3 linked regions of the Homo sapiens genome follow. The protein of the gene in region 1 purifies or fractionates together with the protein of each later gene. This does not show direct contact. Each region holds a gene or a part of one and is shown in the gene's direction. Other genes may lie near its edges. The genes, in order: MS4A4A, CHP1 and XPOT.

The links.
Region 2: the proteins of MS4A4A (region 1) and CHP1 purify together in Homo sapiens (affinity purification with mass spectrometry; one large-scale study listed by BioGRID and IntAct). This does not show direct contact.
Region 3: the proteins of MS4A4A (region 1) and XPOT purify together in Homo sapiens (affinity purification with mass spectrometry; one large-scale study listed by BioGRID and IntAct). This does not show direct contact.

Annotation. Positions count from the first base shown.
Region 1 is NC_000011.10:60,279,069-60,282,824, forward strand, and holds the start of MS4A4A (membrane-spanning 4-domains subfamily A member 4A), read left to right. Parts: upstream 1-1,597; 5' UTR 1,598-1,607; coding exon 1,608-1,648; intron 1,649-3,525; exon of another isoform or gene 3,526-3,671; intron 3,672-3,756.
Region 2 is NC_000015.10:41,279,183-41,282,398, forward strand, and holds the end of CHP1 (calcineurin B homologous protein 1), read left to right. Parts: intron 1-153; coding exon 154-207; 3' UTR 208-2,705; downstream 2,706-3,216. UniProt on the Homo sapiens protein: Calcium-binding protein involved in different processes such as regulation of vesicular trafficking, plasma membrane Na(+)/H(+) exchanger and gene transcription. Involved in the constitutive exocytic membrane traffic.
Region 3 is NC_000012.12:64,414,381-64,418,036, forward strand, and holds part of XPOT (exportin-T), read left to right. Parts: intron 1-526; coding exon 527-609; intron 610-2,317; coding exon 2,318-2,374; intron 2,375-3,656. UniProt on the Homo sapiens protein: Mediates the nuclear export of aminoacylated tRNAs. In the nucleus binds to tRNA and to the GTPase Ran in its active GTP-bound form. Docking of this trimeric complex to the nuclear pore complex (NPC) is mediated through binding to nucleoporins.

The DNA of each region.
Region 1 (3,756 bases):
CATTCAGTTTCCTAACCCAGAATCTGAGTGTCATCCTTTCCTGTTTTTTCTCCTGATTTACACATCCATTATACCAACAAGTACTGTCATTTCTTGTTCCTAAGCATCTTTCAAATCCATTCATTCTCTCCAACTTCACTAGCATCACAGGTAGTTCAGTAACCATCATCCCTTCCCTAGAGAACTGCCTCTACCTTGAGCCTAATTCTCTGATTTTATTATTATTTATTCCTGTTGTCTGAAACCAGGACAATATTTCTGAAATATAATCTATTTTAATTTTGAGAATCGTAATTTCAGATTATAGACCACATAGTTTTTGGAATTAAGTAAAACTGGATTTCAATCTCATCTATACCAGCTATACGAATATCTCTGAGTTTCAGTTTCTTCTTCTGAAAAATAGAAATAATAATATTACCTTCCTTCATTCCCTTTCCATTTGTGTGTCTTTTGCTCATTCATCAGGTCTCCAATTAGATGTCCCCTTATCTAGGAAGTCTCCTCTGCCTACCCAATGTTGGGTTCATTGATCCTCCTATGAGCTCTCTTAGGATATCCTACTTTACCTTGCAGATCACTGATTACAATGGGTTGTAATGATGTATTTACTCATCTGTATTGCCACTTTACCTTGCAGATAACTGATAGTAATGGATTGTAGTGATTTATTTACTGGTCTGTTTTTCCAAGTAGTCTATAAACTCTTTGAGTGAAAATTATTTTTTACCATTTTTTCAGAAGCACACGGCACACTGCTTGGCTTATAGTAGTTTTTCTAAAGAAAATGCTGAATGAATGAAAACTGCACACCACTTTGCTTTCCTCCTCCATGTAAAGTAGGCATTATTTTATTTTACAAATGAATCTTAGGTTCAGGAGATTAACAGGGCCATGCAAGAAATGTTTGCCATTGGTTTGATCTTAGTCAAAGACCAGCTCGTTCTATGATACCAGCTGCTTCCTTCACTTAGAAAGGTGTTGTTTTATTGCCATACAACCAACTTGTTGCCATTTTATGGCCACTCCTGATGAATCTCTAAAGGTGGAATTTCATGTAAATAAAACATTTAAGTTGTGTATATTAAGGTTGGTGCAAAAGTTAATTGTGATTTTGGCCATAAAATAATGGCAAAAACTGCAATTACTTTTGCACCAACCTAATAAAATAGTAATAGTAGTGCTCCAGGAAGACAAGAGTACTGTGGAAATGTGTGACCCTGTGAAAGGGGGTATTTACAAAATACCATTTACTTGTTTATATAACGACTTTTGAAGAGAGTCTGGCATACAGTAAATCCTCTACCACTGATATCCACAGTAATTAGCAGTATTATTTTCATAGGAAAGACTGTATCAGGCAGCCCCTGCTTTTTCAGCAAATTTCAAAATAGACATCCACACCCATATTGGGAACACAAAATCAGTTAATGCTTCCGATATAAAAGAGGAACTAGCTGTGCGTCTCAGAAATTCTCAGCACAGCCTTTAAGGTTCCAAACATCTGCTAGAAGAGGAATGCAGATTTAAACTGAGTGAGGTGTGGAGTGGGGGAAGTTGATTGGGTCTAGACCAAAGAACTTTGAGGAACTTGCCCAGAGCCCTGCATGCATCAGACCTACAGCAGACATTGCAGGCCTGAAGAAAGGTAGGTCCAGGGACTTGCCTTCCTAGGCTTTCGGGCTGATGGCTTGTTTCACTTCCTGGGTTAAGAATTTCTGGGAGGGGAATGAGAAGAATAATGAGGCCACTTCCCATGACCCAAGCTGGTATTCAGGGTTGGGGTGGGTTGAGTGCACCTTTAAATGTGCATTCGGTGGGGGGATGAGGAACAGTTTTTGCTACAGTCGATAGGAGTTAGAAAAGCCTCCTAAAGGCTGACATTGGAGGCTGGATAAGGTTGTTTAGTTACTTTTGTCCCCTGAGTCTTCAGGATATCAAAACACTGAAAGCAACATTTTAAACCTTTGACTAGTTACCTCATCTACTGTTAATGCCCTTCTTCTGTGGTCTTTATTCTCTGTGTCTGACTGGTTATTTTTATAACTCAGGATTTAAGAACAGATGTATCACATGCAGAATTTGGTGTACATGGAGTAGGGCACAGGCAGGGTCCCCAGCCTTGTACATTTAGATGGGCTGTGGCCTGACCTAGTTCTCCAGTGGTCTTTGGCACTATTCATGGGGCACCCAGGCAGTAAACTGAGGCTGCTCATGATAAAATCTGCTAATGAAAAACACCTTGTAGACTTTTAGCATTCTTAGGATAAGAAAGAAGCTTGTAAGTGGTCGTGGCCATTGTAATCTTTCCCCAGATGAAGTAAAAGAAGCCAATAAAAGGGAAATAATGTACCCAGAATCACACAAGTTAACAAAAGGGCTGGGAGAAAAACAAAAACAAAAACAAAAACAGAATTCTTGGTTCCTAGCCCGGGCCTTTCCCCCTTTTCCCTTCCCATGCCACCACTTCTGCATCCCCATCATCCTTCTAAAACCATCCAGATTCAGGCCTCATTTTGGGTTTCTAGTCTATTTGACAACTTTGCCAAGAAAAACGGATGGCTGTTTGTACCACTCTCCTCATGCTCTCTCCTTGCAATTGTGACCCATGAGGAGGATGGTGACATAAAAATGAGGAAATAAGAGACTGGTGGTGCTGCTGATCCACAAGGTGACTGGGGCCAATAGAAGAGGGAAGGGTGGTCTGGGTTTCCCCACCTCTTTATCAGGGGTGTGGGGGAAAGACATTGTATTTCTTAAGAGCCTGATGCATATAGGTGATGTGGCAAAACCAAGGTTTAAATTCTTCTCCAACCTGGAAGAAATGTCCCTCATATGCATCCAATATTCTCAGCAGTTAAAAAAAAAATTGAATATAGAGAAGTCAAGCCCTGGATGGTAAACACGTTTTTGTTCTTGGGGACTTCATGTGCCGTAGATAATTAACACAAGGATTTCTGTGGTGGAAAAAGAGGAGGCAGTTATATGAATTTATGGCCAGAGTTTCTTAGAATGACAAAGCACCAGCCTTGAATGACCAGAACCTGACCTATGTTACCAAAGAATTATGGGAAAGCATAGGAGTCAGTTACAAGCTTTATTTTGATATAATTGCTCTGCCCTCGAGGAAGCTTACAGTCTTACCAGAGAGGCACTAAACACAGAGAGAGAACCACCAGTGCGTTTGATAAGACAGACCCAACATGTCCTAAATTCTCAGTCTGAAGGTGTGCCTGAGAGATTGAGGCAGAGGTTCTTTTACATTAAAGAAGAATAAAGTACACATTTAGATGGACTAAGAAGAATCATCTTTAGTCACTTTCCAAATAACTTTGACTTTTGCAATGTAGAAGGAACATAACACATTTCTTAAACCCTTATTTACCGTCATAGGCTGACTAATCCACATGTGGGCAATGGTGGGGAAGTGGGGGAATAGTGTCTGAGAGAAGATAGAGACTATAAAATGCTGTTCATGTGTGAGAAGATTAGATGATGTGGTGGGTTTGTTTTTGTTCTTACAAGGTGGTCACAAGAGGGGTGGAACATTCCTGCAAATGGTTTCAATATATGCAGATGTCTCAATATAGGAATGAAATTACGTCTTTGGAACAACTTAAATAAGTCAAATATACTTGGAGCTTTAAAAATTAAAAGGAGAGAGATTCGAGGTAAGACTACAATAGATTTGTGCTGAAGTAGCCGAGCTTTTGTTATCAACATTAAAAATTTTAACTTTATGCTAAGGGTGGTGAA
Region 2 (3,216 bases), on another chromosome or scaffold:
CCTGGCAACAGAGTGAGACTCTGCCTCCAAAAAAAAAAAAAAAAGTTACGTTTTACTGCACAGGAGGAAGGGGGGAAAACATTACTCAGATAAGAGCTTGGGAGTGTTGTAATCTTCATAACCTTTGTAACTGTTACTGGTTTTCTCCCCCAGGTTTTGGAGAAGGTGGATGTAGAACAGAAAATGAGCATCCGATTTCTTCACTAAAGGAGACCAAACTGTTCCTTGCGGTCTAGTATTTAAGAACTGGAACTTGAAAGTCCTCCTTCTACCAACTCCACCTCCACCCCCTCATTCCCCTTCTCCCAAAGTACTACTGCTGTTGCATGACAACCCCAAATATGTTCTGTCAACACAAACCTGCCTTTGGTGTATAAACAGGGCATTACAGAATGGTACACCCTATATATTTCTGTTCAGTATCCATTCACTAGTTCTTCATTTATAAATATCATCTTCCCCATTCTGCTGCTGAATGCCACACATCCATCCAGTCTGAGAAAGTGAGAGAGGCAATCATGCCAAGAACAAGCCAGCAAAGCTCTTTCACCAGATGTAGACTGTAGCCCTGCTGCCTTCCCTCCAGCGAGTCTGCCAGCATGCTTCTTCATCCTTTTTATATGTTCTTTGCTTCCTACTTCCCTGTCTTCCAACATACTGTTCACTTACTCTGGCAGTCTTTCTGCTTTTCATTAAGCCTCAAAATCTCCTCTGTTCTACTTGGCACCACAAGCTATGTCCTATATATGTATTTCTGACTTGGCAGGATAGTTCAGGGGTCTGGCAGTTTTTATTTACCTTCATTATTAAATGGGCCTCTGGGATGTTGCCTCTTCAGGAGCTTTTTGGTAATCAATACTTCTCTCAGAAGTATGAGACCATCCTCTGCACTCTGCTCTGTCATCAAAGGCTGCTGGGTGGAGATACCCTTTTTGAAAGGTGGCCTTGGTGAGAGGTATGGAGCCAAGTCTTCTAGGTTGCTTGCCCACATCACTCTATCTCTGGCCTCTGATTCTCAACTTTGTACCTGTGTGGCTCCTCTTGTTAGTGCAATGTTGACTGTTGAAAAAGCAGCAGTATGCTTACAGGTTTGCTTAGTTTGGGGACACCGTTACCACCAGAATGGCTGCTCTGACAATATGCCTAGGGACTTTCTCATGGCTTTTATTTAATAAGGAGGCTGGGCACCCTATAAAGCCTCATGCATTCACACCTTTGCAGCATGGTTTATGCCTCAGTGTTATGTGCACTGGAATGTTTTCCACTTCACATTTCCAAGTAGAAATATTAGTGTTACGGAAGTGCCTAATATCCCAGTCCAAATTTTTTTTTTTTTTTTTTTTTTTTTTTGAGACAGAGTCTTGCTCTGTCACCCAGGCTGGAGTGCAGTGGTGCGATCGCTCACTGCAACCTCAGCCTCCTGGATTTAAGTGATTCTCCTGCCTCAGCCTCCCAAGTAGCTGGGATTACAGGTGTGCACCACCATGCCCGGCTAATTTTTTGTATTTTTAGTGGAGACAGGGTTTCACCATGTTGGCCAGGCTGGTCTCGAACTCCTGACCTCGTGATCCGCCTGCCTCAGCCTCCCAAAGTGCTGGGATTACAGGTGTGAGCCACCACGCCTGGCCCCAGTCCAAAATATTTAAAGATTGTTTCCTTAGTGTCTTGAAGTTTTGCACAAAATTCTTTTTTTTGAGATGGAGTCTCACTCTGTCACCCAGGCTGGAGTGCAGTGGCGTGATCTTGGCTCACTGCAACCTCTGCCTCCTGGGTTCAAGCAATTCTCCCACCTCAGCCTCCCAAGTAGCTGGGATTACAGACGTGTGCCACCATACCTGGGTAATTTTTGCATTTTTAGTGGAGAGGGAGTTTCACCATGTTGGCCAGGTTGGTCTTGAACTCCTGACCTCAGGTGATCCTCCTGCCTCGGCCTCCCAAAGTGCTGGGATTACAGGCATGAGCCACCGTGCTCAGCCGCAAAATTCTTTATGAATTTTACACTTGGCAAATGTTAATGACGGAAGCCATAGTCTGCTCCTAATACATGTCCAAAGCATTGACTGTTGTGTCATTAGCTGCCTGGTTACATTAGCTCCCTGGCTTCTTGTTTAGACCACTGCTAATCCCTTAAAAACAAGAGGTCTGGCACTAGTAGCACAACCTAAGGTGGCATTACAGATCTTTGAGCGAGCCACAGCAACTTTTCTGCCAAGTCAGCTTAGTTTAGACTTCAGTGAATCAGGCTATTGCTATCCTAATGTATGTCTCTATGAGTGTATTTAGCCACACATCTGCCCTTGGTTGACTTTCTGACTCATTGCTTGCTTGCTTGTTTCCTTGCTTTGGAAAACTATTGAAGATTGCTAAAAAATACCACTGCAAAGTGATGGAAAAGGGTGGAGAACAGGGGAGTAGCCAGGCTGGATGGCTCAAATATAAATGAATGAGGAATTCTTTATGAAGTATCAGTCAGATTTTATGATTAAGTGATGTAATATAGGAATTATGTAAAAGGGAAGAATGTCTGATACTGATCTATTAGAGAGGTACTTTAGAGGCTTCTTGATTGGCATAAAGTTCCTAAGGTTATAGATTTTCCCCCCTTTTGGCTGTATAGCAAAGTGTTTTAATCCACGGTTGTGCCTTATTGTTCCATTAAAATTGTATCTTCGATCCATCAATAAATACTTGTGGTTGAAACAAAATAACTTTTGTCCATTTTACAAGAATTTTATGTAACTTAGTCCCTTCAAGTTTGAAATCACAGTGTCTCCCTTACTCAAGTTTATGTCTGTACGGTCAGCTGCAGTCTACTCTGCTGCTGCCTGGATATATGAAGTGGAAACATTCATCGAGGGGCCAGCACTTTTGGCTTCGACATGGTTTTGTCAGCCGTGGCCACTTCCCATTCATTCCAGCTAAGACGCAATTTCTATTCTTGACTCCCTGACTCCTTAAATGTAGAAAAAGCCTAAAAATCCAGTATATGTCCATTCCTTAAATTGCCCACCTCCTCATTCATGTGCAGCCTCAGCGGTGACATACTCTGGTTTTACATGGCTTTTTCTTTGCATTTCTTTTTTGAGATGGAGTCTCACTCTTGCCCAGGCTGGAGTGTAATGGCACAGTCTTGGCTCACTGCAACCTCCGCCTCCCAGGTTCAAGCAATTCTCCTGCCTCAGCCTCCTGAGTAGCTGGGATTACAGGCACGTGCCA
Region 3 (3,656 bases), on another chromosome or scaffold:
AGGGAACTTACATGATATAATTAAAGACTTGAAATACTCTCCTGTGTAACAGTAGATCAGATAAGGTACACAGTATGTTTTATCTTTTATAATCACCGCTTTAATAGCAGATGTGCTATTAAATAGGAAAAGTGCCCTTCACGTGCCATTTTATAATTGCATATTATAAAATGATCACACCCTTAACTCATCCTCTGCAATTTCTCAGTAGTATGGCACTTGACAAAGCACTTGCTCTCATTCTTCATAATAACCCCATGAAGGCTGCGGGGCATTTTTGTGTTGTTGCTGCTGTAAGAAAACAGGTTTGATTATCTAACTGATGGAATTTATATTTATTTAACCTATTTTTAGGAATGACCCCAAGTTGCATATATTCGGAAGCCTGCATTTAATGTTTTAACTGTTTTTCTATTAAGTTTACTGATTTGTTATAGGTTTGCAACTCTCAGAATATTTTGTTTATATTAGCAGGGCATTGAGATTGTTTATTCTAAATGCATTTTTTTGTTTTGCAATCTTATAGGCCCTGGCCTATTTTGAGCAGTTAAAAATTTCCCCAGATGCCTGGCAGGTGTGTGCAGAAGCTCTAGCCCAGAGGACATACAGGTAATTAAAAACAAAATTTGCATGACAATTTAAATTTCTGTGGACATGACAGGACTGTGAAATTTACCTGTATTTGGAAAGTGTTTTCATAAAAACATTTTATGACTTTTTTTTTTTTTTGCAAAGCCATTAACATATAGTCATTCCATGTAGAAATGAGAAAAGTAGTAAACCCAGTTTGGCCATTTCAGAATTAACTTTTCAGTAAAACCATCCTTTGGTATATATTGTGTACCTGTCACCAGATCCCAGCTGGAATAAAGTGCAGTAAAAACTTCCTTATCTTATGATTGAGGGTGATAACTGCTTTCCTAAAACTTTGGTAAAGACGGTGATTGTAAATGATATATATCTTAATTTTAAAATTATTTATTTATTTTATTATTATTATTATTATTTTCTTGAGATGGAGTCTCGCTTTGTCGCCCAGGCTGAAGTGCAGTGGCGCAATCTAGGCTCACTGCAAGCTTCGCCTCCTGGGTTCTTGCCATTCTCCTGCCTCAGCCTCCTGAGTAGCTGGGACTACAGGTGCCCATCACCATGCCCGGCTAATTTTTTTGTATTTCTTTTTGGTGGAGACAGGGTTTCACTGTGTTGGCCAGGATGGTCTCGATCTCCTGACCTTGTGATCCGCCCGTCTCGGCCTTCCAAAGTGCTGGGATTACAGGCGTGAGCCACCGTACCCGGCCTATATCTTAATTTTTAATTTTAACTTAAGGTATATAATCATTCGGTGACCAATCTTTTAATATTGGACCACAGTCTTTATCTTTGTATACTAACTAGCATTCACTTTATTCGTAGGTTGGTCACACCTGTAACCCATCCTCTACAATTTCTAGCATGGGTCTCTGTACAATGAGTGACGATCCATAGATTTTTAAGATATTTGTCCCCGCCTCTCAAGTCTTCTGGTTATATAGGCCATGTCAAATATGTACAAGATTTTTTCCTTCTGCAGTGTGGCTTTCTATGAAATCTTTCTAAAGCATTCAACTAACTTTTTACGGAAATAGGAACTCTCTTATACTCACTTCATTGGCAGATTGTTGGTCTCTAGAAGATCTTTGTCAGTGTTTATAGCTGGCTAACTGCAACTCTGCCACTCCCCTAGAAAGACAGTTGGAAGTGGGTAATTGGTGTGTTGACTTTTGCCCCCATCTTGTATAAGCAAGGGTACCATATTTGTAATTTAGTGTCCTGTACGAAACTTTGAAGTTGGACTGACAGTCCATGTGGCCCTGCTTGTTTTGGATTTGGCTACAATAGAACTACTGGGGTTGAATTTTAAGCAGGACTTGGACGACCATCTTTACTTTCACTCAGACTCTGTCTGTTCTGCCATTTGTAATTTTACACCTAACCTGTTATTGTAAAATGAAGGGACTGTTCCAGGAATCTTAATATCTGGAATTTAGAGGGATGGTTTGCTGCTTACAAAGCATTGTATTCAAGGTGCATCTTAATATCTTGGTTAGTTTGCTTGTCAGATTTAATGGAAATTTTAAATATTGTGTAATATTTAGAGTTCTCATAGCTTTTTAAGTAAATGGATTTTAATGTCATAAAATGAGACCAGTAAGTATGAAACAAGCCAAAGGTCTAGTTTGAGAAACTTTTCTGCTGTATTACTCATTACTATTTTGCCTTTGATTTGTTTTCCTCAGTTCATATTCTGCTTATCTCATTTTCTTTTTTTCTTTTTCAGTGATGATCATGTGAAGTTTTTCTGCTTTCAAGTACTGGAACATCAAGTTAAATACAAGTAAGGCTTTTCTTACTGTTTTGACTCAGATTTGCGGGGAGAGGTCATTTTTTTAATTTAATGTTTTTCTTCCATAAGGAAACCATAATACAGGTTGTAAATTCACAGTGTATATGTTATATCCAGGTTATAGATACGTTTTGATGTACCCCAAAGTGTTTTAAAAGTGCTGAGTTGGCCAGGTGAGGTGGCTCTCGCCTGTAATCCGAGCACTTTGGGAGGCTGAGGCCGGTAGATCACTTGAAGTCAGGAGTTTGAGACTAACCAGCCTGGCCAACATGGTGAAACCCCGTCTCTACAAAAAATACAGAAACTAGTCAGATGTGGTGGCATGCACCTGTAATCCCAGCTACTCAGGAGACTGAGGCACGAGAATTGCTTGAACCTGGGAGGCGGAGGTTGCAGTGAGCCGGGATCACACCACTGCACTCCAGACTGGGTGACAGCGAGACTCCGTCTCAAAAATAAAAAAAGTGCTGAGTTTGTTGGTTACACATAAAAATCCAAGGCTGGGCGCAGTGGCTCATGCCTATGATCTCAGCACTTTGGGAGTCCAAGGCAAGAGGATCGTTTGAGCTCAGGAGTTTGAGACCAGCCTAGGCAACATAGTGAGACCTCATCTCTACAAAAATTTTTTTAAAAAATTAGCCAGGCATGATTGCGCGCTTCTGTATTCCCAGCTACTGGGGAAGCTGAGGCCAGGAGGTTGAGGCTCCAGTGAGCCATGATGGTGCCACTGCACTTCAGCCTGGGCAATACAGCAAGACCTTGTCTCAAAAAAAAAAAAAAAAATGAAAATCCAGATATTTCACAGAAAAATCTAGATTTCCAGCTTTTCTGGAAAAGTCAGAATATCTGGTAACACCAGGCCTGTTTTTCTACATGACAATTCTCTCTTAGAGTTAAGTAGCTGCATGGGCACTTGTGTTCAGAATCTCTGACTTACTAATTAAGCAAAATAACAAATCACTACTGAGAGGATTCCTAGTTCACCTATTGGTTTATTCTGTAGATCACAGACCACAAAACATTTTCATTCGAAAAATTGTGTAGCCATCATTTGTTTCAACATGAACAGAATCACAAATTAAAGATTGATATTGATGCCCTACCTGCCACTCTTGTCCTTATCTTTAAAGCAATGATGAGTGGCATTATCAGTTTATGTTAGGGAACTTCAGATAATTGAGAGCTATACAAATTTTCCCTTTCAAATATATGAGGCTGTTATTTTTTACAACCATAGACACCAAATATAGCCATTATTCTTTTTCTTCTCTAT